Linked DNA regions of Homo sapiens. The protein of the gene in region 4 purifies or fractionates together with the protein of the main gene of each other region. This does not show direct contact. Each region holds a gene or a part of one and is shown on either strand. Other genes may lie near its edges. The genes, in order: TBCCD1, P3H2, TCEAL9 and KRABD3.

Evidence for each region.
Region 1: the proteins of KRABD3 (region 4) and TBCCD1 purify together in Homo sapiens (affinity purification with mass spectrometry; 2 studies listed by BioGRID and IntAct, with this or other methods). This does not show direct contact.
Region 2: the proteins of KRABD3 (region 4) and P3H2 purify together in Homo sapiens (co-immunoprecipitation; 3 studies listed by BioGRID and IntAct, with this or other methods). This does not show direct contact.
Region 3: the proteins of KRABD3 (region 4) and TCEAL9 purify together in Homo sapiens (affinity purification with mass spectrometry; 2 studies listed by BioGRID and IntAct, with this or other methods). This does not show direct contact.

Annotation. Positions count from the first base shown.
Region 1 is NC_000003.12:186,550,318-186,557,340, forward strand, and holds part of TBCCD1 (TBCC domain-containing protein 1), read right to left. Parts: intron 6,459-7,023; coding exon 6,092-6,458; intron 4,768-6,091; coding exon 4,581-4,767; intron 4,435-4,580; coding exon 3,937-4,434; intron 963-3,936; coding exon 833-962; 3' UTR 812-832; intron 1-811. UniProt on the Homo sapiens protein: Plays a role in the regulation of centrosome and Golgi apparatus positioning, with consequences on cell shape and cell migration.
Region 2 is NC_000003.12:190,117,894-190,125,408, reverse strand, and holds the start of P3H2 (prolyl 3-hydroxylase 2 isoform a precursor), read left to right. Parts: upstream 1-4,511; 5' UTR 4,512-4,677; coding exon 4,678-5,157; intron 5,158-7,515. UniProt on the Homo sapiens protein: Prolyl 3-hydroxylase that catalyzes the post-translational formation of 3-hydroxyproline on collagens. Contributes to proline 3-hydroxylation of collagen COL4A1 and COL1A1 in tendons, the eye sclera and in the eye lens capsule.
Region 3 is NC_000023.11:103,351,739-103,358,974, reverse strand, and holds TCEAL9 (transcription elongation factor A protein-like 9), read right to left. Parts: upstream 2,470-7,236; 5' UTR 2,369-2,469; intron 1,893-2,368; 5' UTR 1,814-1,892; intron 1,361-1,813; 5' UTR 1,291-1,360; coding exon 976-1,290; 3' UTR 513-975; downstream 1-512. UniProt on the Homo sapiens protein: May be involved in transcriptional regulation.
Region 4 is NC_000007.14:149,717,941-149,724,963, reverse strand, and holds part of KRABD3 (protein KRBA1), read right to left. Parts: intron 5,496-7,023; exon of another isoform or gene 5,419-5,495; coding exon 5,292-5,418; intron 4,957-5,291; coding exon 4,837-4,956; intron 4,130-4,836; coding exon 3,974-4,129; intron 3,585-3,973; coding exon of another isoform or gene 3,582-3,584; coding exon 3,429-3,581; coding exon of another isoform or gene 3,121-3,428; exon of another isoform or gene 2,924-3,120; intron 2,591-2,923; coding exon of another isoform or gene 2,543-2,590; coding exon 2,411-2,542; intron 2,182-2,410; coding exon 2,008-2,181; intron 1,231-2,007; coding exon 1,075-1,230; intron 313-1,074; coding exon 115-312; intron 1-114.

The DNA.
Region 1 (7,023 bases), on a different chromosome or scaffold from region 4:
TTTATGCCTGTACTCCCATCACTTTGGGAAGCCAAGGCAAGTGGATCACCTGAGGTCAGGAGTTTTGAGACCAGCCTGGCCAACATGGTGAAACCCAGCCTCTACTACAAATACAAAAATTAGCCAGCTGTGGTGGTGCATGCCTGTTTTCCCAGCTACTCCGGAGACTGAGGTGCGAGAATCACTTGAACCCAGGAGGCGGAAGCTGCAGTGAGCTGAGATGGCGCCACTGCACTCCAGCCTGGGCGAGAGACAGAGACTCAGTCTCAAAAAAAAAAAAAAGAATACCATATGTCTGGATTAAATTTACTTCCAGTAAATTTGTTTGTATGCATATTCTCTTCTATTTAATCCATGATCTTCTAGTGTTCAGTAATCAAATCTTCATTTGGATTAATTCTGGTAATTTATTACTGCTAATATGTGTAATTAGCAAAGATCAGCTAATTTGTAAATTGGTTTTTGTGAGGGGAATGGATAAGAGGAAAGGTTTAGAAAAGGAGAATAAAACTTAGAACTATGTATGGGGGAATGTGGTATCTTTGGACAGTACAACTTGTCCCAGGCAAAAAGCAAAATAAGACAAAATTTGGCCATTATATTGGCCCCAAATTCTATAGGCTCCATCTGAATATTTTGGTTGGTTTTCTCACTATAAAATATGGTAAATATGGGTACATAAAGGTCCGTGTATGCTGGTAGGAGCGGTAGAAAAAATTTGGGCATGTTTAGTATATAATATTCTGTGCCTTTTTTTTATGCTTGAAAGATTTCCCCAAAAGAATCTGTTTTAAGTGGTATAAATGCCTACCAGTGTCTGCATGTAAGATCCTTATCCAGCTGCTTGTTTGGAGCCTGCTGCAGGGGGTACAAGGCTGTCCAGCTGTTGGCGATGTCCTGTATTAATCAACCATTCATAAAACTTGTTCTCTACCAGTACCTGGAACTGCTTCCTTTGATCCCTAAAATTGCGATTATGAGTAAAAAGAATATAAGAACATGAATTCATATAAATTGTACTCTAAGCAATTATACAATATTTTAATAGGATAATGTTAAATGATTAATTATTTCTTGTTATCCTTTTGTTCTCACTGTTCAGAGTACACTGGACACCCCCACCCCACAAAGGATTGATCAGATACAATGTCCTCTTTCTACTTTTTCATTGTCAGATATTTACCAAGGACCAAGTGAACACTGGGTACTGTTCTGACTGATGGGGATAAATGTATAGAGAAGAGACAAGGCCCCTGTTGAAGCAGGATGACACTTCACGACTCCAGAGGGCACCATTCACATTGTGATCTGTGTAATCCATGCTCCTGAAGACTATATATTCTAGTAGGAAAGATAGGTAAAAATAAAATAAATAGGCCGGGCATGGTGACTAACGCCTGTAATCCCAGCACTTTGGGAGGCCAACGCGGGTGGATCGCTTGAGGCCAGGAGTTCAAGACCAGCCTGGCTAACATGGTGAAACCCTGTCTCTACAAAAAATATAAAAATTAGCCAGGCATGGTAGCACATGTTTGTTAAGTCCCAGCTACTCGGGAGGCTGAGGCAGGAAAATCGCTTGAACCCAGGAGGTGGAGGCTGCAGTAAGCTAAGATCACACCACTGCACTCCAGCCTGGGCAACAAAGCGAGATGCTGTCTCAAAATAAATACAGTACAATACAATACAATACAATAAAAATATAATATAAAGTTAAGTAGTTCTAGGTGCCATGGAGAAAAATAGAGCAGGGTGAAGGAATAGCAATTCTGGAAATGTTATTTCAGAGAAAGAATGGAGAGAGATGGCCTCCCTAAGATAATATTTGAGCTTAGGTCTAAATGAAATGATGGAATAAGCAGAATGAGTATTTGGAGAGGAATATACCAGGCAGAAGAGACCAAAAAAGTACAAAGGTTCCAAAGTGAGAGCGTATTTCACATGTTCATGATAAGAAAGAGAAGAGTAGCTCCTGACAGCCAGGAGCTAGCCTAGCACTGTCAGCTAGGCCTTGGTGTAGGATCTGGACTTGCTATTGTATTCTTTTGTTGAACATAAACAATACCTTAAACCACCACCATTAGACAAAGCCACTCTGGGATGATGATAGACCAAAGAAAGAACAAGATCACTCCGTAATCGTATCTCAGTTCAGAAACCCCCACACCAACCTCCAAAAAAATGTTGTGACCCAAACCATAAAATCACTAAACATTCCTTTCCTGGAGGAGTGGCTACTTCTTTACAATTATAGTTTTAGCTCTTCCTTCCTTCCTCCTGCCTTAGATATAAAAGTTATTAAACTGTCAAATCACACATTACTCTCACTTCCAGATAGTCCTGCTTCCTAGAACTCTCCCCCAAATCATTAACACAAGCCAAAATCCAACGATAAGTTCCTTTTAACACCTGTTTACTGAGTTGAAACACAGTTTTCCATGTTCCCCAACCTTTTACTGAGATGAAACACACTTCTCTCCCTCCTTGCCATGAGTCAACACAATCCACCTTTGTTCTATAGATGTGTTCCTGGTGGTCTTTGGTCAGAGGGCAGTGATTAAGTAATAGTAAGATGACTGCTGTATGCCGGGAAGGAGGAAATGAGGAAAAGAACGGCAGAAATTGAGGAAGAGAGAGCCTGGTAAGTATGGTAAAGGCTTTGGATTTTATTTGAAGTATGATGGGAGGCCATTAGAGGGGTCAGAGCAGGGAAATGACATGATGTAATCACTGTTAAAAGGGTCACACTGGCAATTTGTTTCAAACTGATTTCTGTCTTCCTATATTCCCAAAGTTAAACTGACTACTTTCATTGTTTCTGGGATCACTGTGGATCTCACCACTTGAAAACACTGACTCAGAGTCAGCATTTATTAAGTGCTTACATCCCACAGTCTGCACATGTATATGCAGGAGCTTTTCACATGTAAGAGAATCTAAGCACTTCATCGTTTCTTGGCCTTTTGGCTGAGATCAAGTGTAGAGAATCTAACCATTTAAATACTAGAACCATTCAAACAACAGAACTGCTTTAAAAGAATGTTTTTTCATGATCATCCATTTTTACAACACATTATTATAATGTTATTATTGTACAGTATGATATGGTATGACAATATTTGAAAGAAAACAATGAAGACATTAGAGGCATTTAAGAACCTCTGGTTACTGAGAAGTCAGAACAGAGAAAAAAAAAGAACCTCTGGAACCAGGTTGATTAGGTGTGAATCCTGGCTCCTGTGTGACTTTGGGTAAAGTACTTAATTCCTCAGTTCTTCGGTTTCCTCACCTGTAATAAGGTGTTATTACAAAGAATAAATGAGTTAGCACATAGAAGGTGCCTAGAATGGTATTGGATTATGTGGCATACTCTATGTATGATTTTTTAAATTCATGTAAGTCTTATATTTGCCAACTAAACTTTAGCTTCTTAAGAAAAGGGAGTCTAATACTGGATATTTACCCACTCCCATCCCCAACCTAACAGTGTTTGAAATACTAATTTGAAATCCAAACCTTAATTTAAAAACACATTACTTTTTTTTTTTTTGAGACACAGTTTCACTCTTGTTGCCCAGGCCGGAGTGCAATGGCACGATCTTGGCTCACTGCAACCTCCGCCTCCTGGGTTCAAGCAATTCTCCTGCCTCAGCCTCCCACGTAGATGGAATTACAGGCACACGCCACCACACCCAGCTAATTTTTGTATTTTTAGTAGAGACGGGGTTTCACCATGTTGGCTAGGCTGGTCTCAAACTCCTGACCTCAGGTGATCCACCCACCTCGGCCTCCCAAAGTGCTGGGATTATAGGCGTGAGCCACCGCGCCCAGCCTTACATTTTTTATTACTTTAGCACAGCTGTAAAAATGTGCAGACTAATTTGTTTCTCCATGGAGTTTCACAAAAAACACAAACTGTTACTTGTAAAAAATACTCACTTTGTCAAATGAGCCTCCTTCACAGTTTTCTGCCAGATCTGTATCTTCTGTTCTCTTTGACCCAGTGCTTTCTGATATACAGATGGAAGACCCCCGGGTATCTCTGTTGTGTCCCCTTCCATTTCAAAGGGAATAATAAATACATAGAATTCACAAGGTGGTAAAAGCTGGAAGACTCTTGTGTCGCTGTTCTCTCTGCACACAACCATTGGATTATCCCAATAGTTAGGCACTGTAGCAAGGCCAGTCCTGGCCATATGGTCCTCTAGCATTGGGTAATGTGTATGAAAAGGGGCAAAAGTTACTGTCTGGTTCCCAGAGAGAATAAGTGGGCGTGTAGGCGTAAGAACGTGAAAGATGCAACCTGTTGTAGAAGAGATGGACAAACGATGGCAAACAGCAATGACTTTAACATTGTCACAACTGTGGAGGTGAAGTGTAGTCCCTACAGGGCCCAAGACAAAGATGCTATTCCTGCACTTCTCAATTGTCACAGATCTGAAAAAAGGAAAAAATGAGGTAAAGTCCTCTGAATAAGATTTTAAAAATTTGACTAAAATATTATTATCTGATGGCAAAAAAAGAATCAGTCACAGTCCAAAGAAAATGTCAGAACATCAGAACACCATGAAAACTGTGCTTACCGTAAGGGAGAGAGCAGATATATAAAAGATTCGTTGCAACGATGAATCTTTACATGTGCCCCCGCCAGAGTGTCTGAGCTCTTAGCCAGTGTCTGCTTGTAAACCTGGCTCATCACTACCAGTCGGTGCATCCTAGGGGCCACATGAGTATTACAAGCAATCTTAGCTCTTTTGGTGGTCCCTTCAACTATTTAAGAAAACATATAAATAGATGAGGCAGTATCAAATCAAAGAAAAACAAACAAACATATGAGGTTACACGTCTACATGTATATATGTCTCAAATTAGATACCACATGTAGGGACAAAAACGTTAGATCTGGGCTTTGGATAGAGGTATTTGCTATACTATTCTCTATTCCTTTCTGTATGTTTGGAATTTTCATTTTTGTTATAAAAAAAATTTTAAAACCTATAATGAATTTAAGATTGCCTATAAGTCTAAGATACTTTTTCGTGTCTACGCTTCAAGTTAAGGTCTATGCCTAAGGTCATATGGCTAGTAAGTGGCAAAGCTGTCCTAACTCAAATATCTTCTCCTCCAAGATGCTTTACTTTATCATCCCAAACGTAATTCACCTCTCTAAATTACCATAATATTAATTCTGTACCCTTCCTAACTTACCACATTATCCCATTAATCCTATTTGAGTTCATGCCTTTTTTTCTTCTTTTTTGTGAGACGGAGTCTCACTCTGTCACTCAGGCTGGAGTGCAGTGGTGCAATCTCAGTTCACTGTAACCTCCACCTCCCAGGTTCAAGAGATTCTCCTGCCTCAGCGTCCTGAGGAGCTGAGATTACCAGTGCATGCCACCACGCCTGGCTAATTTTTGTATTTTTAGTAGAGCTGAGGTTTCTCCATGTTGGCCAGGCTGGTCTCGAACTCCTCACCTTCCGCCAACCTCAGCCTCCCAAATTGCTGGGATTACAGGTGTGAGCCACCGCACCCAGCCTGAGTTCATGTCTTTACTCCTAAGATCATTACTACCTGAGAGCACATCTTCCTATCCCACACAGTGTGTTGCACAAACTGACACTCAAAAAATACGCGCAGGTTCTCCTAACACAGTCACACCGTTACGTGACTGCCTTCTCAGACTGTACCTCCCTGCAAGCCACCGGGACACCCTTGTAAACAACACCGCTGAAATACTGGGAGGTCACATGAGTATGCTATTATTCTTCTTCTTTTAAAACATTTCTTGTTTATTTTTATTACATACGTTTACTTTTATTACACATGTACCAGGTACATAATATATGGTTATTTAGAAAAATAACAGTAAAAGAAGATAAAAATAATTTGTAATCCTACTATCATTTTTAATATTTTAGTATAATCCTTGAGAGAAAAAGTCATGCACAAAAGACAGATGTTCCTTTTTCTCTTTTATAGGAGCAGTATTTTTTAGGTCTTCTAGAGAAGACACGAGATCACTAATATATTAGAAAACACTAGGTTCCTTAAGTTGTCATTCAATTTAATGTAGATTAAAATATTAAAAAATACCTTGATGAGCCCAAGCCAATTTCTTTCCAGACTTGAGGCAAGCTGATGTACCAAATGGATTCCCAGTCAAACAGGACCTCAACCAGGTTTCCAGTTTGTAGAAAGAGAAAGTCTTAGAGATCTTTGAGAAGCCACTATCTGCATGCAGTGGTTGCCACAGTGCAAGTTCATGAAGTGGATAGATCTTCCTGGCTCTACTTATTGTACCTTCAATAAGGAAGCTGAGCGCCACAACAGCTTCTCGAGACACTAGACTACTATGGGTTGAATGAAATGATGCAGTGAGTTGTTTTGGATCTAAAAGCAGCTCGAGGAGATCAGACAGATGATCATAGACAAAAGCTTGGTGACTGTAATCATTCCAGTTCTAAAAAAAAGTTAAAAGAAAGCACTCTTAATAAAGAGATTCCACAAGATCTAAAATTTCTATATTTTAATTATTTTGTATTTATACTCTGCCTCATCCCCCAAAAGGAATTAGGTAGTTATATAAACCTTATAAAGGTGATCCGCCCGGCTTGGCCTCAGAATTTCTAATCCCTTAGAATTCCAGTTCATTAACAAGCATGATGGCTATTCCAGTCCCAATGTCAAATGCGTTTTTAGTTCAAACACCTATCACCAATGCATAATTTCTTCCTGGGGGAACTGACTGGCCCAGGTCGTCACTTTAAATCTGGCCAATTTCAAATGTATAGCAATAAATGGGCTACTCAAGTGTCCACCCCGGTCCAATCAGTTACTCAGAGAGGTCGTGCTGTAGTATAAACCAAAGTCACCATTTATTGGTGCTTACTATGCAATAAGTCCCATGCTAATATATTACTGAAGTCTCATAGTCATTCAGAAACATGCATTATTATCCTCACTTACAGAAGGGAAGCCAAGGCCTAGAGAAGTTAACTGACTTGCCTAAAATCGTATGACTAAAT
Region 2 (7,515 bases), on a different chromosome or scaffold from region 4:
ATATTTACTAGAATGGAGAAAAGTTGGTTTTTAAAAACTAAGCTGATTTGGAGAAAATAAGAAGCACTTAAAAATCTCTTCTAATTCCTACTTGCTGATGGTTCCCTAAAGAAAGACGGTGCAATTATGCTGTTGACTTGTAAACAGAAGTCAAAAGGAAATTCAAGCTCTGTTAAGACTCAATCCAAATATAATAAAAAGGGCTCTGTCGCCCAGAATCTCCTTTAATGTTTTTGGATGGATTCTCTTGTGCTCTGGCTATTCTTTGATTTTGTAAAGAATAGGAAGAAAAGCAAAATTCCAGTCTCCCAGTTCATACCTATCTTAGTAGAAATGTCAACATTTTATGTTCCAATGTCGTCTTTTCTCAAATATTTTTCTTTCTTACTGTCATGTGCTTTTTTCTTTTGCTTTTTAAAAAAGAATTTACAAAACTACTATCACCCACTGCCCCATGACATCTAGCATATATGTTTTATATTTTGCTATATCAAATTAAGCATTGTACTCCTGCTACTGCCTACCTGTGGGTCTAAGTATCCTCATTTTTAAGTTAAGGGAATTAGATGAGCCTCGCAGTGCTCAAACTATGCTATATCCCTCAGGCTTGGCACCATTGACACATTAGACTGAATAATTATTTCTTGTAGGTAGCTGTCTTGTGTATTGCAGTATGGTCAACACCATCCCTGGTTCTACCCACTAGACACCAACAGTATGAATGCTCCCACCTACCATGCCCCAGATCCGACAACCAAAAATACCTCCAGATAATGTGAAATGTCCTCTGGGGAGTACAATCACTCTCAATTGAGAACCACTGCTCTAACTGAAGCTGTGAATCTTAACCTTTGGTTAGTATCTGCATCACCTGAGAAACTGGTAAAAATATAAAGGCCCAGACTAGATTCTAGTTCAAAAATCCAGGGTCTCCACGATCTTACTAGCTTTTTCACAACACAACGAAGTTTTAGAACCATTGTTCCTAAGAAATCAGATAATAAAGTATGGGCAGCACATCATCAAGGAACAAGTTAGAAATGCAAATTTGAAAGCTCCACCCCAGGTTTAGTGAATCCGGAACTCTGAGATGGAAGTCAGTTAATTATTTAAGGAAAAAGTACATTCTTGGCACACTCTGTGAGAAGTTCAGGAGTATAAGAGACTCGTGGATGACTGTCTGTTCCAACATTGAGTAAGTACCACTGGGACAGCATGACCTGGAATCAGCTTCTTGGCACTGCATGGCTCTTATTACCATAAGGTCATGAACTTTTTGTCCTGATCCAGCCTTAAAAAGCAGATCAGATTGGCTTTCCTGGGAGGGAATATCTGGGGGATTACACAAAACCCTACCTATTCTCCAAACCCTACCTACTCATGAATTCTACACAGCACCTGGAACCCCAACTCATAGACTTATTCTTTGGGCTGTGGCATTAGCTGTAGACCTGTGGTTCTCAACCTTGGCTTCGTATTATAATCACCTGGGAAACTTCTAAAAATCCCATCGCTCAGGTCATATCCCAGACCAATAAATCAGAATCTTTCAGAGCAGAAGCCAGACACTTCTTAGGTGATTCTAATGTTCAAGCAAATTTGAGTTGTCAATGAATAGTTTCTCTCAAGTCAGGCAGAGATTGTACGTAAGGTAGTAATACAAGGCATATTACTTACTTACTACTTGTAGTAAGATATAAGAAATAAGGTAGTAGGACATACAAGAGGCTTGAAAGAACCTGGCCAATTTGGCAATCAGTAGGATGTGGTTGCATTCTATAGGCTATTGACTGTGTGCTAATGCCAATTATTTCCCTAAGTCTTTTTAGATCCTTCTAGCCAGAAGCTATCTTTGTAACCTCTGTGTTCCCAGAGCTCTTTTTTCTTTCTTCTTCTTTTTTTTTTTTCTTTTTGTTTTTTGAGACTGAGTCTCACTCTGTGGCTCAGGCTGGAGTACAATGGCGCGATCTTGGCTGACTGCAACCTCTGCATCCCGGGTTCAAGTGATTCTCCTGCCTCAGCCTCCTGAGTAGCTGGGATTAAATGTGCCTGCCACCACGCCCAGTTGATTTTTGTATTTTCAGTAGAGACGGAATTTCACCATGTTGGCCAAGCTGGTCTCCAACTCCTGAGCTCAGGTGATCCACCTGCCTCGGCCTCCCAAAGTGCTGGGATCACAAGTGTGAGCCACTGCGCCCGGCCAACACTTTCAATCTAATCTAACACGTACCACATTCTACCTTGTATTATAGCTGTATACATTATATATATCAAATTTGTTTCCTATACAGTACTGTGAGCTTCCCAAAGGTAAGAATCCTGACTTATCTTCTCTTTCACCTAGAATATTTACTTTAAGAGTAGGCATCAAAAATTGTTAATTTAATTGAAATATATTAAATGATGTAGAAATGTCACCAAATGTACAAATAGAATGTAGCAAGGTATCCTGGCACTTTGCCCTCAGTCCCACAGCAGGAGTTCCTATCCTGATGTGCTTCAAAACCTTCCACAAGTGGACTGATAACCCTGGACTAGACTCCAAAATCTTTATCTGAAAACAGACAATCTCTAGAGAAAAAGTCTGGGCAGATGACTGATGTGCTAATTCTGGAACACTGACCATCCAAGGCATTCAATATACATTCAGCTCCAAACTGGAGCTTTTTCATCAGTGATATGAGCCGAATTAGTAACGTTTGGTGGGAAAAAAAAAGAGCATGATTCATCAGTGTCTCTTGGAATTACACAGCCAGGGCTGTTCATGGCCTGAGTGGTCAAACCTAACAAAATGAATGAAGGAATCAGCATGAATCTCTGGCAAGCCCCTCAGCGTAGTGGTGATTCCACATAAAAGCCTTCTTCGGAAAAATCATAGCAACTAGATACATGCGTGAGTCTTTTTCCCATTGCCTGTCCCTCTGCTCACCATTGCAGGGGCTGAAAGACTGATGAGATTCTCACAGGCACTAGAAGACCACAGAAATGCCTCCAGGAGGCAGGCTGGGATCCAGGGTCCAACCAATATTCTTGTGAGAGTGTGAAGCCAAGGAACACGAAAGAGGGGAACACCTTGGCTAAGAATGTATTCGTGACAGAGGAGAAGGGGAGGAACAGGAAGCCTCCAGCTAGTCGTTTGGAATCTGGCAACCATTTCTGTCAGCTTTCTCATTCCTAGATTGATGCAGATTGCTTAATTCCTTGAGGTAAGGGATATACTAAATTGCCTCTTTGTTCAACTCTTAGAATAAGAATTTCCCTCTCCTCTCCCGTCCCCTCCCCTCCCCTCCTCTCCTCTCTTTTCTTTTTCTTTGTTTTTTTTGTTTTTGAGACGGAGTCTCACTCTGTCACCCAGGCTGCATGATCTCAGCTCACTGCAACCTTCACCTCCCAGGTTCAAGCAATTATCCTGCCTCAGCCTCCTGAGTAGCTGGGTCTGCAGGCACGTGCCACCACGCCCAGCTAATTTTTGTATTTTTAGTAGAGACGGGGTTTTGCCATGGTGGCCAGGCTGGTCTCGAACTCCTGACCTCAGGTGATCCACCCGCCTTGGCCTCCCAAAGTGCTGGGATTACAGGGGTGAGCCACTGCACCTGGCCCACAGCAAGAATTTTTTTCTGAATAGCATTTTACGTGTTAGGCGTCTGGCTGTTTAGGAGATGAGGAAACTGAGGCCCTCAGTTGCCAAGGTCACACAGCTGGTAAACGGACGGAGCCAGAATGCGAGTACAGCTCCTCCTGCCTCCAAAGGTTCTCTGGGCCCTGTAAAACCACGGGCTGCACAGGAAAGGCAGGCTATATATTGTTCTTCCCCTGGCCCAGCGCCCTGATCCAATGCCCGGACACACATCCACACCAAGTTGGACGAAAAGGTAAGGGAGAAACCTTCCCCAAGAGAAGAAGCGGTAAGCTTTGGTTCTAAAGGCCCTGGGTTGGGTCCGTCCTTTGCCACTTCTCAGCTCTATGCATTTAGGCAAATCACTTATCTTCTTAAACCTCCGCATCTGGGCCTACAGGGCCTCTATGGGTTTTTTTTCTATTTATTTATTTATTTATTCTTTTTTTTTTTAACTTTACGTTCCGGGATACACGTGCAGAATGCGCAGATTTGTTGCGTAGGTACACATGGCATCTACGGTTTGATTCAGTCTGAAATGGCGCTCCAGGCTTCATTTAGAAGGTGAAGCACTCTGCAAACTGCGAGGCCATACAGAGATTCCAGAATATGATTAAGGCCCTAACCTTGCTAAGCTGGATTTTCTTTATTTCCCAAAAAGAAGACTAATACTATCCACTTGTACAACCAGAAGGGAGCTCACGTGTAAAGCGCCTCGTCCCCGGCCGGCCTCAAGCGGCGCTAGCTCTCTGGCTGGCGCTGGAGTGTGCCGCCCCTGGCAGCCCCGCCGCTGCAGCGGGGAGCCTGGGAGAGCGGCTCTCGGAGTCTCAGGCAGCAGGAGGAGCGTGTGAGCTGTGGGCGTCCCTTTAAGAGCGGCTGGCCAGGCACGGCCTCCGCCTCTCAGTACGCGGAGCGCCGGCGGTCACCTGGGGCTCGCGGAGCGGCCAGATCGCGGCGGAGTCGGCGCGCTTCCCCGAGGGAAGGTGGGAGAGGGGACCCGGACGCGAGGTGCCCCGAAGCCCTCTCGAGCGTAACCGTCCCGCGCCTCTCTGAGGCGGAGGATGCGGGAGCGCATCTGGGCGCCGCCGCTGCTGCTGCTGCTGCCGCTGCTACTGCCGCCGCCACTGTGGGGCGGCCCCCCGGACAGCCCACGCCGGGAGCTGGAGCTGGAGCCCGGGCCTCTGCAGCCCTTCGACCTGCTCTACGCCAGCGGCGCGGCCGCCTACTACAGCGGAGACTACGAGCGAGCGGTGCGCGACTTGGAAGCGGCGCTGCGCAGCCACCGGCGCCTGCGGGAAATCCGCACGCGCTGTGCCCGCCACTGCGCGGCGCGCCACCCGCTCCCGCCCCCGCCCCCCGGCGAGGGCCCCGGCGCTGAGCTGCCCCTTTTCCGCTCCTTGTTGGGGCGGGCGCGCTGTTATCGCAGCTGTGAGACCCAGCGCCTCGGGGGCCCCGCATCCCGCCACCGCGTCAGCGAGGATGTGCGCAGCGACTTCCAGCGCAGAGTGCCCTACAACTACCTGCAGCGGGCCTACATCAAGGTACCCACAGAGCGCTCCTCCACTGCAAAGCCCCTGCGGCTCTCACACGCTCTCTTGAGCCCTCCCTGCTGCCCCCGTCATCTCTGTTCAGTCTTTCGAATTGGGTCTCCTTAAATATGTGTCTCAGTTTGTGAATCCAGATATCTGGTGGCCCTATCTCTGTATGCAACAATTGATTAACTTGGACAAGTCTTTTTCTCTCTTTCTCAGAGCCAGCTTCTCTCTCAAAAAGAGGACTGTCCTGATAAGGTGATGTTTAAAGTACCCATTCAGCACTAATTCATGAGGCATTGACAAAGCTGAATCTAGTACAATTTATCTTCTCCCTTCTCACTTCCCATTTCTCTTCTCCCTTCTCACTTCCCATTTCTCTTCTCCCTTCTCACTTCCCATTTCTTTTGTCTCCTCTCTCTTATCCTTCCTATACTGTAGTCTGCACCTTTTCTCTGAAGTTTAAAAGAATCTTCAAAATAGTGAAGTTGAAAGACCTGTTCCAAAACAAATTTCTCTCTCTTCTCCCCTTCACCTACAAAAAAGTAAAGATCAAAGGTTAAAGAGAAGGTATGCTTGGAGGAGGCGAAGCTGTTTGAGGCAGTCTCAGTCAAAGTATCCACCCTAAGTGTTGACTTTTTCTCCTTTGATAGAGGGCTTACGTTTTCTGGTGGTATGCATTGGACTGGGTTACTAGGCATCAGTCCTCTCTTTCTAGTTTTATTTTTGTATGCCTAACTTGCCTAAAGTTAGCGTCAGGAGGTATAGTATGCATATTGACATATTGTTCACATCCATAACTTTGAAGATCTCTCTGGATGCTTCAGCAGAGGGAATTTGAATGAGTTCTTCAACCTCCACTGCCACTCACCCAATTTTCCTTCAAATTGACACTCTTAACCCTTCTTTCTCGTTTTCTGTGTTAATATATCAATGTATCTTCTACAGCTACCGGAAAAGTGGAAGCTTTGGGGTTGGTTGTTCATGCTAGCCAATGGACCAGGCTGCTCTGCTCTGCTCTGCTCTGCTGTGCTCTGCTTTGCTTTCTTTTCTCCTCTCCTCTCCCCTCCTCTCCTCTCCTCTCCTCTCCCCTCCCCTCCCCTCCCCTCCCCTCCCCTCCCCTCTCCTCTCCTCTCTTCCTTTTCTTTTCTTTTTTTGACGGAGTTTTGCTCTTGTCACCCAGGCTGGAGTGCAGTGGTGCAATCTGGGCTCACTGCAACCTCCGCCTCCCGGGCTCAAACGATTCTCCTGCCTCAGCCTCCTGAGTAGCTGGGATTACAGGTGTGCACCACCATGCCGGGCTAATTTTTGTGTGTGTTTGTGTATTTTTAGTAGCGAAGGGGTTTCACCATGTTGGCCAGGCTGGTCTCGAACTCCTGACCTCAGGTGACCCGTCCGTCTCCGCCTCCAAAAGTGCTGGGATTATAGGCGTGAGCACGGCTGGACCAGGCTGTGTTTCTAAGGAGATGAAAGTACATACCATGTTCAAATATCCAAATGCCTTTTGCAGCTCATCCCACAAGATCTCTGCCCTCATCTGTGGTAGGGTTCTCTCAGATTGGCAACTGTTGGTGGAGTGCACGAAATTTCAACTAAGTATAAATCTTAACTTCCTTGTGTTGTGGCTAAGGTGTTGGAGTTCACTGGACTAGTATCTTGGGCAAGAAATGAGGAGAAAGTCTGAATCCTTTCCAGGACTTGTCTTCTGCTTGCTTGTGCCTCCTGATTGCTAAGGCATGTATGAAGTATAACTCTAATTTCTTCTAAGTGATTTACACAATTTCTGGTGGTCTTACAGAAATCAGTCAACACCAGGCAGAGAGGGGACCTTGAGTGTCTGACGGTGAAGTTATCATAAGCTAGTTCCCAGAGCAGAACATGGGTGGTCCCTGTAGCTTGGTCCTCCCAGGAGTCTCGGATGTAAGGTTAGCAGTCCTGCTGTTAATTCTGTCACAAATTTTGGACATATTTTCCTTTCTCATATCTGGAGAAAGAATACATAGTCAAGGTCAGTCCTATAAAAACAAATAACCATGAGGTAACTCTCAATATGTGGGTTTCCCTGGTTCTGGAATTCTGCTTGCTTCACTGTTAATGTCAGCATTTGTCAGTCATTTCCCCTCCGGTTCCCTGGTTGGAGGTCAAAGAAGGTGAAGCCATAGGTTTAACATACCTCAAATTTTTGTGGTGAATTGATTACAGGAACAAGTCACACTCTGTAAGTGAATTACTGGGTGTTGTCTGATGAATTAATGAAGTTTAAGAAGTTCTTTCAAAGATCCGTGGCTTCGTGTGTTCATTTCAGTTCTACCAGCAATATTTCTGAGAGCAGAACAAGTCTTGCGTCTTCTCCCTACTTCTCTTCTC
Region 3 (7,236 bases), on a different chromosome or scaffold from region 4:
CACACCATTCTCCTGCCTCAGCCTCCCGAGTAGCTGGGACTACAGGCGCCTGCCACCATGCCCGGCTAATTTTTTGTATTTTTAGTAGAGACGGGCTTTCACCATGTTAGCCAGGATGGTCTTGATCTCCTGACCTCGTCATCTGCCCGCCTTGGCCTCCCAATGTTGGGATTAGAGGTGTGACCCACCGCGCCCGGCCTTGGGTTTGTTCTTAATCACAGATAAGAACTACTTTCTCCACCCTTCCAAATCGCTGAAATTAATCTCTTACGGAGTTGGGATGGGAACAAAACTCTGTCAAACATAGCTCACAGTCATTACTCTATTTGGCCCTCACCAGATCCTTGTGAGATTATTTTCTTTATTTTAAAGATGAGAAAATATGTAAAATTTATTATTCTAGCTAAGTGGTCTGGAGTTACTTTCAAGTTCACATTTCTTCTAAAATTCTGTCAACAAATATTAAATGCCCCAATACTTTTAGAAATAAACTAATACGTGCTGCTTGTTGCTTCTTTTTTATAAAACTTTTATTATTCTAGCAATAATAATGTGTGTTAATTTTAGGAATATAGAAAATACAAACAAGCAAAAGGAGAAAAATCATTCATAATCCCACCACCGAGAGGCTGTACTTTCTTTCATCCTTCACAAGTTATGTCCATATATGTAATATACAAATGTACTTTTTACCTTTCAAAAATATGATATTCACATATTACTTAGCCTTTTTCCATTTTATATCTTACCAAGAACCTCTTTTTTACAAATGTGTAAAGTTCTTTTATTAAAAGACAGAGACTTGTAGATTGGTTCAAAATACAATAAACAATGAGATGCAGATAACAAGAGATACATCTAAAACCATTAATAGCAACAGGTTATAAGTAGAAATATGGACAAAGGAATATCAGGAAATGCTAATAAAAAGCAAGCTATATGGTATTGTTAATATCAGATAAAAATCAAGGTAAACTACATTAAATAGGGGTAAGGATGGTTTCGATTAACCTTCCAACGCATCACTATAAGTTTGTTTCTGACTCTCCTTATCTCATCTATTTCATCCACTTCTCTAAACATATCTTCATTGCTTAAATGCCTGTTGTGTATATCTTCTTTAAACTCCTGGAGAGATTGAATCAGCCTTTCTCTAAAAGTTCCTTTTGCTTTGGCCTCCTCCTCTAGCTTCTCCTCCTCTTCTGGCTTTTCCTCAGGCTTTGGCTCTTCCTCATGCTTTGGTTCACTCTCATTTTCTGGTTTTCCTTCCATTTTTTGACAGGATTTCATCTTGTATCTGTCTACCTCTCTTCCTTCCTTCTTTTCTTTCTTGCTTATTCTTCTTTGAATACAATGACTTCTAGAAAGCAAAAAGAAGACAGTAAGTTAAAGACTTGGTGAGTGGACAGGTGCTGTGGACAGAGGCCTTAGCATTTAATTTTTTTTATTCAGAGCTGTTATAAAATATCTTCCACCTAAGAAGCCCAGTCAGCAATCAGAGCTTCACTATCCCCACTCCTTTTACCTCCACTTTCCACCTCCTCACTTCTCTCTTGTCCTTCCCTCTAACCTTTTCCAAGGCCCTCCTTTCCGCCGTCCAGCCCTCCCCAGACCTTTTTCCCCCATAGGGCCTAACACAGGGACCAGGCCAGAAAAGAGAAAGGTGGCTGGCAGGCAGAGGAAGAGGGGAAAGGAGAAGGGGGAGAGAAAAGAAGAGGGGAAAGGGGTGGGGTGGAAGGGAGCCGGCAGGAACGGTGGCGCTTACAACCTTTGTCTCCACCCCAGGAGACTTTATAATATTCCTCTCACCTACCTGGCACTGATCGGGTCAGTTTCTTCCTCCTCCTTTTCTAGCTTTGGGTCTTGCTGGAAACAACAGCCCTGCAGATAAACTGGAAACGGGAGGGGACGGTGGGGGTGGGGCGAGCGCTTGGTGGGCCGACCAGCGCCAGAGACTGACACACGTAGCTTTCCTCCTTTAGGGTTTCGGATATGGAAAGTTTCCCACCTTTTGTTTCCCCTAGTTCACCCCCTCTCCACAGTGCATGCAAGTCAGTTCGTTTTTCCCATCAGACAAAGAGTGAGAAAGCAGATTATTTCCAAACTATCTTTAAGACTGAGGCGGGGTTCGGGAGGAGGGTGGGGGTCCGGAAAGCAGTCTTAGATAGCAGAGGATGATTATTTTTAAACTACCACAGGTCTCCCTGTTCTTCTCCTAGGACCCCTAGTCCCTTTCCCAAGGGTCATCAGTTCCCGTAGACCTGGAGGTGGAGGGTGGAGGGACGGACCTGACCGGCACTCCCACAAGTCTCTGCCTTAAACCCCCCCACACTAGAAATCCCCAGTCAACACCTACAGTGACACCAACCTGCAAAATTCCCGCAAGTTTGACTCCTTCCACGGGCCTCAGGGACCACCGCCTGCGCTGCTGAAGGAAGCTGGTATCCAGACGGGAACAAGGACCAGATTACCAGGACTTCTGCACACGTCGACTCCTGGTCACATGAGATCTACGTCACCAGTGAGCTCGGGTCCCTAATTTCCACTCCCACCAAAAGCGCGGCAGAAGTGGGCCCACCCTCTCTCCCTCCCCGCCCCCCACTTATACATTTGGCCCTGTCAGTCTTTTCTGTTGTTTCCTATCCCAGCGGGAAAAATGTTATTTGCTTGACTCTGATTACTAGGGAGGGGCTACCTCTTTTTCTGGAGCTACTGAACTTTTCTACTTCTTTCGAGAATTGTCTCTTCCATTCTTCCACTCCCAGGATAACTCCTCCATCAGTCGTCCCTCCTCTAGCCTCCATTTCCTCTGCAATCTGGTTCTTAGCTGTTGTAGAGCAGGGTGGCCTTGGCAGCAGTTGTGAAACAACAACAAAAAAAGACCCTGGAACAAGAGTGAGATTTCTGAATGCAATTTTTACTTTTTATTTTTCGTACTTCTATATCCTTTTTAAAAAGGTAACTTTAATCTCTCTCTCTCTCTCTCTCTCTCTTCTTTTTTCTGTCTTTCTTTCTCTTTTTTTTTTTTGAGACAGGGTCTCACTCTGTTGCCCAGGCTGGGTTGCAGTGGTGCGATCACAGCTCACTGCAGCCTCAAACTCCTCGAAACGAGTGATCCTCTTGCCTCAGACTCCCAAGTATCTGGGACTACAGGTGTGTGCCACCATGTCCAGCTAGTCTTTTAATTTTTTTGTAGAGACAGGGTCTATGTTCCCCAAGCTGGTCTCGAACTCCTGGGCTCAAGTGATCCTCCTGCCTCAACCTCCCAAAGGGCTGGAATTACAGGCCTGAGCCACTGCACTGGGCAACTTTTATCTTTTTATAGTCAGAAAAGACAAAGAAAAAATTACTTTAATGACATGAGTTAATACATGTACAGTGCTTATTGTACATGTGGCATATAGTAAGTGCTTTTAAAGTGAAAGCTGTTGTGATATTAGAAGTTTTGTGAGGAAAATGATACAGAATTTTTTAAAAAAGAGTAATGTTTCATTCCAGAGTCCTCATGGTGGTGTTACCAGGAAGCTGTGCTGCCTGAAGAATCATCAATTAATCGTCAGGTACACATTGTGAACCTGAGTTTCCTCATCTGAAAGAAGGGAATAATAGCATATGCTCATAGAATTGAGATCTATTGAAAATAAAAATAAGAGTTAATTTTTCATCTGTACAATTAGAAAAGACAAATATTGATTATATTCAGAGTTGATGAGCATATGGTAAAACAAATATTCACATGTACTGTGAGACTATTAAGTAGTACAACATTTTTGGAAGTCATTTTGGCAATATCAAACTTTAGAAGATATGTGCTTTTGGACACATCAATTCCTCTTCTAGAGATTTATCATACATTAATACTCCTATGCCAAATATGGTCATTGTAGTAGTTGTGGCAATAGTGTTTTTTTTAAAGAGCCAAAAACTTATATGTTTCTAAAAGGAAATTGGTTTAAGAAAAGTTTGATCATTCATATAGAGCCACATTATACAGTGATGAAAAAATGATGTGGAGTTACATTTACTCACATGAAAAAAATTGTTCAATGTATATTGTTAAACAAAAAAAGGCAAATTGAAAGTTAATTTTATATGTGGTATTACATTTTTGTAACAGTATACATATTTGTGTATTTAAAATATGAGTATACAATTAAATTACATGATAACATGATAAGTGAAGTCCAGAAATTCATTCTATAAAATTCCAGGTTATGTTACTGAGAGATGGATGGATGGAATGACTGATGTGAGTCTATTTGGCTAGCTGGCTACACAACCCAAATTCATCAAGGACTCAGCTGTGATTTGTTGCCACAAACAATTCTTCACTGAGCACTTGGACTTAAATATCATCCATCCATTTTACTCTCTCCCCACCTGCTATCACCAATCATGTTATATCCAAACTCAAGTTGTTTCAGGGTCTTACTGTATTTTTATATCATTAGAAATGCAGATGAATATATCCTGAACATCATAGGATATACTTGAGAATGTGTATTTCATATAAAGAGAACTTTTATTTTCTAAGTGTTGTATTTATATATTTAAATTACTAATAAGTTACACAAATTAATTCAAGATGGATTAAAGACTTAAATGTTAGACCTAAAACCATAAAAACCCTAGAAGAAAACCTAGGCAATACCATTCAGGACATAGGCATGGACAGGGACTTCATGACTAAAACACCAAAAGCAATGGCAACAAAAGCCAAAATAGACAAATGGGATCTAATTAAACTAAAGAGTTTCTGCACAGCAAAAGAAACTTCCATCAGAGTAAACAGGTAACCTACAGAATGGGAGAAAATTTTTGCAGTCTACCCATCTGACAAAGGGCTAATATCCAGAATCTACAAAGAACTTAAACAAATTTACAAGAAAAAAACCACCCCATCAAAAAGTGGGCAAAGGATATGAACAGACGCTTCTCAAAAGAAGACATTTATGCAGCCAACAGACACATGAAAAAATGCTCATCATCACTGGTCATCAGAGAAATGCAAATCAAAACCACAATGAGATACCATCTCACGCCAGTTAGAATGGTGATCAATAAAAAGTCAGGAAACAACATGCTGGAGAGGATGTGGAGAAACAGGAATGCTTTTATACTGTTGGTGGGAGTGTAAATTAGTTCAACTATTGTGGAAGACAGTGTGGCGATTCCTCAAGTATCTAGAACTAGAAATACCATTTGACCCAGTGATTCCATTACTGGGTATATAACCAAAGGATTAGAAATCATGCTGCTATAAAGACATATGCACACGTATGTTTATTGTGGCACTATTCACAATAGCAAAGACTTGGAACCAACCAAAATGTCCATCAATGATAGACTGGATTTAGAAAATGTGGCACATATACACCACGGAATACTATGCAGCCATAAAAAAAGGATGAGTTCATGTCCTTTGCAGGGACATGGATGAAGCTGGAAACCATCATTCTCAGCAAACTATCACAAGGACAGAAAACCAAACACCGCATGTTCTCACTCATAGGTGGGAATTGAACAATGAGAACAGTTGGACACAGGGTGGGGAACATCACACACGGGGGCCTGTCGGGGGCTGGGGGCCTGGAGGAGGGATAGCATTAGGAGAAATACCTAATGTAAATGACAATTGATGGGTGCAGCAAACCAACATGGCACATGTATACCTATGTAACAAACCTGCATATTGTGCACATGTACCCTAGAACTTAAAATATAATAATAAATAAATAAATAATAAGTAATATATTAATTACTAATATTCAGAAAAATGTTTGAGACAAAAGTGAAAAATGAAGAAGAAATAAAATATCTGACAAATATTAGACAGCCATGTATCTATTGAAATGAAAATTTTTATAGTATATTGCTATGTAAGGAAAAAGCAGGTTATTAACAGTAACAGTATTAGAATTAGGTATGATTGGGTGGTTGGTGGGCTTATGGATGATTTATATGTATTTTTTTACTTCATTGTAGACTCTTCTACATTTTCTCAGGGGGCATATGTAACTTCTACAGTAAGGAAATGTCTGCAAATAGTATGATTTTATTTTATGGCACATATTTCATATACATACTTCTCTGTAGCTGAACAGGGTCTGAATTAAGGGACTCCACTACCTGTTTGAGACTTCAGATCCTTACGATGGTTGAATCCCTCACATTTCCTTCCCTTGCTCCGCTGACCTCCTCAAAGGACTACATGTTTGTAACTAGTATGCATTAGAAATGAGGGTCTCTTCCCCTTCCTCTGACTATCCCTCCCTTCAATCAAGTTTGAGATGGTCAAAGTGTACTACTACATTTTTAACATGGGGAAGGAGGCATCTCTTTCTTAAATTTGACCTGATGAAAATATTTTCTAGGGAAATATTTTTGCTAGAGAAAGTAATACTTATGGCAATAATATAATAGTTTAAGCAGATTATAAAATAGTATTCTTAGTTGCCAATTCAATTCTTTAAAAAATATGTATGAATAGAAACAGAAAGGATCTGGCTCTGCTTGACATGTGGCATGTATCTATAGTTACCTTACTTTTTTCCAGTAAAAATGTTTTATTTTTTGCAAATAAAGAAAATAACTATTATTTAAAAGCAGGTTATAAATAATGTATATAAAACTATCCTAATTATACTTAAAAATACATATAGGAGGAAGGAAACCCTCAATAATATACACTCAATTTCATTTATTTGGTGGCTCTCAAATATACACTTCATCCACTTATTGGTTTCACAAATATTAATTAGGCGATCACTAGATGTTGTCAGTCTAAACCCTTATGTCCTTTCTGTAGATTTCCTCTCAATTATCACTGAATGTGTTAGTGCAGTGGAGTTGCATCTTAAGCCAAGGATGGATTCTAAAGTCAGCATATAAGGTAAAATCCTACCTAGTCAAACTTACCTACTTCATAGCATATTACTATAAGTTATAATGTTAGTGGGGAAAAAATGAAAATATTTAAACTTAAAATTAAACTCCCATTTAATTTTATGGGAATATAGATTTCTAAAAACTTTCATGTCTATAATTCTTGTGTATTTTCCAAATTTTCCACAGTTTACTTGAATTACATACATAGAACAATGAAATACATAGTTTTGAGATAACCTAGACTTTATTCACTCTTCACTGTATATATGGGCATTCAATTTTTATGTAAATAATACATATAAAACACACACACACATATATATATACAATTTTAAAATTGAAATGTAT
Region 4 (7,023 bases):
AAGGCCAGGGGGCGGCTCCCTGCTGAGAGCTGCTTCCCTGGGGTTAGTGGAACCTTGCCAGGGACTGACAAGCCCATGGGGAAGACCACCAGAGCAGCCAATCTCAGGCCTCACCTTGAGCCTCAGGGCCCCAGCTGGGTTGGGGGACCCCTCTGGTGTCTCCAGTGGCTGAGGGACTGAGGGGCTGCCTGCCAGGCTGACAGGATGCAGGTCCTGGGGGGCTCTGGACCCAGCTGTTCTCCATCTTCACAGAGAGCAGACCGCCAGCTCCAAGATCAGGATGGGGAGGAGGGGTCAGGAGGTATCCAGGCCCTGCGGGAGGAGGCCATTGGGAAGCCCAAGGTTCAGGCCTGGACTCACCCTGAGAATCCCTTGAGGCCTTTATAGGGTTAGGAGGGGCTTCCAAAGCCCCTGTGCCTCCACGGCAGTCACCGGCTCAGACTGCTGTCACTTGTCAATCACCAGCAGAGACCTGAGTCACACGCCTCCTCCCCTACCATGGCCCCTTGGGGTGCCTCCAAGGTTTCTACCAGGCATGAAGTCAGCCCTCCCCAGACAGCACCAATCATGTCTTTCTCCATGGCCAGCACACCTGACTCAACCCAGCTGCTCAGGGCTTTGTTCTGAGAAGCTAACAAGCTGAGGTGACATGCACGGAACACGAACCCCTGTGTGGGCTGGGTGGGTATAATTAGGATTTGGGGTTCCCAGCTCTCACACACATGGCAGAAACCTGACCCAAACACACAGGACCCCAAGCCACAATGAGGAGCTGCGTGTGTGCTGGGCTAGAGCTCCATCCTCTATTTCTTGATCTCGCTCCCTCCCCACTTTCCTTTCAGAATGTCCAGCTCCTCCTCTAAGAGCCAGCCTGAGAATTATCAAGCGCTGACCGAGCCCCTCCCACACAGCTCGCTCCACTTACACAGTGGGGATCCCCCGCATCCGGATCCTCTTCCCGACAGGCCAATATGGGGGCCTGAGTGTTTGTGGTGGGGGCCACCTACAGCCCTGCCTGGGGCAGGGTAATGTAGGATGTCTGGGGGCCCTCCCAGCCCAGCGAGAAGCCTTTACCTCCAGAACCCCTTTTCCAGGCTCCTGGATTCTCCTGTAGCCGTCGGTTCCCCACTCCTGAGGGACTGGGATGCCTGTCCTGGGCCTCGGGGAGCTCCTTCAGACAGTGTAGCAGACCCTGGAGGGGACAATCCCCTGAAACCGCCTCGGTCTTCACTAAGGAAAAAGGAACATGTTTTCACCTGGAGCTCAGTGTCCTCAGCCTTCATGACAAACAACAAACAGGGGACAAGTTAGAAGGGCGTGGGGCCAACTCTGAAGATGAGGCTCTTCCAGTGGCTCGCTGAGTCTTCCCAGTGCCTGGGTCCACACACCTGCCAGAACCGGACAGGGCAAAGAGGGAAGCCATGGAATTCGCCCTGCAGGCAGACAAGTGGCATCACTCTGAGGACAAATTGAAGGAAGTGGGCTGTCAGGGTCACTGTTTGAGACAGCTCTGGGGTCCTGAACAGAACTTACATTTGAGGAAAATGGAGTTGTACAGTAAGTACATTACTGCAGCTAAGCTCACTGCGGCCCTGTGAGTGGGAACAGCCTAGGCTCAAGGCATCAGGAGCCTCTCCGGGTCTGACTCCAAGACCTGTGCCCCGGCCCCTCCACCATGCTGTCCAGAGCCCAAGCCCACCCCATGCATCATGCCTGGCGTCAATGCAAAGCAACACATGAGCTCTGCAGCTCTTCCCCTCGGGTCCCAAGTCAGGAGGAGGAAGAGACATGAAGAAACCAGGGCAAAGCCTGCTTCCGAGTTTCCTTTTCCCAGCTGACCAAACGCTGCCCTTAAGAGAGCCACCTGGCTCCAGAAAGGTGACACTGGCAACACAGCAGCGACCAAGCTGGTAACGATCCCTAAGGGAGACAGTTTGGAGCAGGAGGAATCGCTGTTGAAATGCAAACCAAGCTTCAGAGACCTCAGCCTGAGGCCCCAGAACTCACCTGCCCAGGGCGGGCTCCCAGGCCCCAGGTCTGCTCTGGTTAGCCTGGACGTGCCCAGGCTAGGGAGAGGTGGCAAGAAGCTTGGGGATGTCTCGGGGTGCCGGGGCCCAGGCACAAGGATTTCCTTCAGACAGTTGATGAGGCCTTGCAAGGGGCTGTTCCCAGGAGAAATTCCTGTGGCACATGCAAGGTGGGCCTGGGTCAGTGCAGTCCTGACGGGACACCGGGAGCGCTGGCAGGCATTCAGGTCTCCGGGCGGCTGAGATTCCCACCCGTGAGAATGCAGACAAGGCCTGCCCGGTGGAGCTGCCACCAGGCCCAGGCGGCGGAGCAGCATGACCTCCTCGTGTGAACTAAACACACTTCCCCATCGCTACCCCACTAAGGAAAGCCCGCCTCTCACCGGCCTCTGAGGTCCCTCTCTCCTGTCCTCTGTGGCTCTTCCTCCTGCTGGGGCTATGGGTGGGAGGGCTGGGCTCCCCGCCCAGGGCTCCTGGGCCTTCCTTCCTTGTAGGCCACGGTTTGTCGGCAGTTTCTGTTGCAGGAGAAGACAAGAGGGCCTTTCTAGCCCCAGCTCCAGACTCTGGAAAATCACACCAGATCTGGTTCCCATAGAGGACAGCCCTCTCCAGCCACCCAAGTCCCTGTTCGAGGTGGGCTGAGGGCCTTTACCGTTTCTTTCTGGTTTAACTGGAAACAGCAAGACTGTTGGTTCACTGTGAACACTCCCAGACCCTTCCCCCTGAGCCCAGCCTCGGAATTTGGCTCAGGAAGTGATGCCGGCAGCCTTGACATGTAGGCCACAATCTCACACTCACGCTTCTCAAACCAGGGCACACACAGGGCACACAGAACCCCAGAGCAAGTGTGCCCGACGACCCCTGAACACCAGATGAAACCACAGCTAAATGGGGTATGCTCTTTGGGAGTGCCAATTTTATTCCATATAAATTTGAAGTACTTTTTTATAAAAACAGACATGCAAAATTTGTGAGAAGTTTTAAAAATAAAATGAGACCCCAGAGAAATCCTAGGAGCTCCCCTTGCCCTGCTCTGCAGTTAGGGTTGCTGTGATGAGACGGTCTAAGGATCAGACCAGTGCACACAGGTAGGTCAATGCTGCTGGCCGTGGGCCTGCATGTTAGAAACTGCCGGAGACTTTCTGTGTACAAAGTGCTCAGTGATCGGGGCGGGATGACAGGCTCCCCAGGGGCTGAGCATCATGCCTCCTCTTTGGTGGTTACACCAGAGGCTAAATATGTTGTCCTGCTCCCTGGCGTACTTTGTTAACAAAAGAACAGCACAACAGGGGAACTGAGTCCTAGAAAAAAATGAAGAGGGCACAGGGTCCAGGTCCTCTGACGCCACGATCAGGGCTTTTGAAATGCTGGTTCTCCCTGTCCCTGCTGTGTCAGACTCACTGATGGGGAGAGGACTTCCCTGGACCCCGTCACCAGTTGGGCCACTGGAACACGAGCTGTCGGTGGGCGTGGTGGCCAGGTGGGGCTGGCTGGTAGGGCCGTCTGGAAGGCAGCTGAGCAGGCCTCGGAGAGGGCAGGGCTCTCTTGCCGCAGCTGCTGTCGGGAAAGAGGGAGAATCAACAACTGGTAAGATGCCCCTAACATTGTCACACTGTCACATTCTGGGTCCTTTCCTTGCCATGTACTAACAATGACCAGGATGTCAGCCACCTATGTGTTGTCATCACTGGGCTCTGAATGGGGCCATGGTGGGTGGAGGGTGACAAAGCCACACAGAAACCACCATGCGAAAGTCAGAGCTGCCCTCTCGCCAGCTATGGGCATGTGCTCAGAGGGCGGCACACGGCCTAGCCACGAGGAACAGCAGGTGACTCTGCCTCCCGGCCTGTGCCTGCAAGCCCACATGCAGTGCAGTGCCGTGGACTTGTGCTTCATCATGCGGAGTGCAGAGGAGGCTGCGTGCACTGCCCCACTGTCTGACTTACCCTCGGGGCTCGCTCTCTCTCCATCCAGGCTGGCTCCCCGGCTCTCGCTCTCGGGGCTGTCCATAGCGCCCTTGACTTCTCCAAACAAGAACTCTGGGATCTCCTTCACCAGCTGCACCAGGGCTGTGAGGTGCAGGCTGTGCCGGGGCTGTCCCCCTGCAGAGAGGCCACAGTGACCCCCCCGCACCCCTGCGGCTGCTCAGCACTCACACCTACGTGCGTGTTTTCACACCCAGCATCTCACGTAATCCTCCCAGCCACATGAGGAGCAGCCAGAGGAGACACCATGTCCCATGAGATATAGAGGACCTGGGCTCAGGCCAGGCGCTCTGGCCAAGGGACAGCCAGGGCATGGGGGCGGGGCCTGGGTAACAGGGCTCCTCTGTTCTACGTTACTCATTAATCTCCATGCCTCCCAGGGGAATGCCCAGGCGGGCTGCCGCTACACTTCTTCCACCATCTGGGCCCTCTGCCTTTCCTGGCACCCCCTAAATGCCTGGCCTTGCCCAGTCTGGGCCGGTGGAGCACATCCACCATCTGAGGTCTTGGGATGTAAGCCTCGTGGCAGGACTTTTGGGAGCTGGAGCAGGTTCTGCAGGGGTGGCTGTGATAAGGCTTCAGGGTGGTGGTGGGTGGGGGGCCTGAGGCAGGAGGTACTCTCCAGGGTGACCCCAGGCTTTCTCTGAGTGCTTCTCTGCATAACAGGCTTCCAGCCCAGAGGGATGAGGGGTGAAAGCTTGGGAGGTTGCAGTAGGGGAGGCAGGGAGGTGAGAGGCTGGACTGAGTAGGCTGAGGTCACGCATTGCCTGGGGCTGAGGACCGATGAGTGGGAGGAGACACCCAAAGTCTGACAGATAACTTACCCTGGGGATCTCCACAACCAGCAGGCTCCTGCCCCTCATCAGCGTGGCTCCCTCCCCCAACAGCTCTTCCAGGCTCTGAGGGTGACAGGAAAGCAGAGAGGGGGAGCAGCTCAGCTGTCCCTGGGAAAGAAGAGGGAACTGTGGCCCTGGGAATGGAGTGGTCTCCGCTTCGCACACAGTTGCATAGCAGCCCAGGCCCCTGCAGGTCTGTGCACATTCATGTGACCACTTAAACTCAAAGAACCGCAGAGTGGTCGGAACCTCAGAGGCCGCCGCATACCCCCACCGAATTGTACCTAGAACCCGGTCCCGGGACATAGAATAGCAGCAGCGTGAACGATCCCCGTGTTCATTTCTCAGGTGGAAAGACTAAGGCTGCCGGGTCCAGGGACTCCGGCCTCCCTTCCACCGCCCACCAGGCTCCTGCCACACGTGCTGCTCCCTCCCGTCCTTACCCACAGAGACCAGCGTCTCGTAGTTCTCCCGCATCACGTCTCGGTAGAACTCCCTCTGCCCCTCCTCCAGGAGCCGCCACTCCTCCTCCGAGAACCGCACGGCCAAGTCCTTGAAGGTGATGGACACCTGCAGGCACAGTCTCCGGGGGGGTTGGTTGTTCCATCCCAGAGGGGACAGCCTAGCTGTCCCTGCACTTGGTAACCCCACCTAGGCCTCCAGGCGCACACTCCAGGATAATAGCCAGGGTCTGACATGCAGGAATCCCCTCAAGAGACAGTGCTGGGGGTGAGCTGTGTCTCTGCAGAGACACGCTGAAGTCCTAACCCTCACGCCTGTAAGTAGGACCTTATTTAGAAACAGAGTCCCTGCAGATGGAATTACTTAAGATGAGGTCATACTCCTAAGTAGGGGGGACCCTTAGTCCAGTATGACTCATTCCTTATCAGAAGAGACACAGAGACAGACACAAAAGAAGAAAGCTGTGTGAAGACAGGCAGAGACTACAGTCATGCAGCCACAAGCCAAGGAATGCCCAGGGCCACCAGAAGCCACAAGAGGCAAGAAGGATCCTGGCCCAGAGCCTTCAGAGGGAGTGTGGCCTGCCCACACTGTGACGTAGGGCTTCGGGTCTGCAGGGCTGTGAGAGAAGACATTCTTGCTGTCCACCTAGTTTGTGTGCTGGGTTTAGAGAAGTGCTCAGAAGAAACCTGGGGTTGCCCTTGGAAGCTTTGGGTCACCAGGCTCCTTTACACCCTGTACTCCTATCTCCTATTCTCTGTACTCATCTCCTCCTACCCTGTGGCTTTTTAAAATAACACGAGCATTTTTGTCTATGTTTCTTTACAAAATAATCCTTCGGCTGGGTGTGGTGGCTCACGCCTGTAATCCCAGCACTTCGGGGGGCCAAGGCAGACAGATCACCTGAGATCAGGAGTTCGAGACCAGGCTGGCCAATATGGTGAAACCTTGTCTCTACTAAAAATGCAAAAATTAGGTGTGGTGGTGGGCGCCTGTAATCTCAGCTACTCAGGAGGCTGAGGCAGGAGAATTGCTTGACCTCGGAAGGCAGAGGTTGCAGTGAGCCGAGATCACGCCATTGCACTCCAGTCTGGGCAATATGGCGAGACTCCATCTCAAAAAAAAAAAAAAAAAAAAAAAGTCCTTCAGTGGACTTTAAAGTGGCCATCAGACACTAGAAAATGACCAGCATCAATAGGCTTGAATTTAAAATTATGGCAAAAATTAACTGTGCAAATTAAGCAAACAGAAGGTAAATTATGGGAAGGGTCCTTCCTGTTGAGAAATGAATGTTAAACTGTTTATTTGTGAGAACAAATTATTAAAGAAAATGAACACGCCCCTAATAAAGCAAAGACAATTCACCGCTTGTTTCATCTGCTCAGGGCAGTTATTTTAATTAATTAATTAAAAAAGACAGGACCTTACTATGTTGCCCAGGCCAGTCTTGAACTCCTGGGCTCAAGTGGTTCTCCCACATTGGTCTCCCAAAGTGCTAGGATTACAGGCGTGAGCCCCTGCACCCACCCAAGTCAGTGATTCTAAAAACTGTCCCAGGCTGGGTGTGATGGTTCACGCCTGTAATCCCAGCACTTTGGGAGGCCCAGGTGGGTGGATCACCTGAGGTCAGGAGTTCAAGACCAGCCTGGCCAACATGGTGAAACCCCATCTCTAATAAAATACAAAAATTAGCCAGGCATGGTGGTGGGTGTC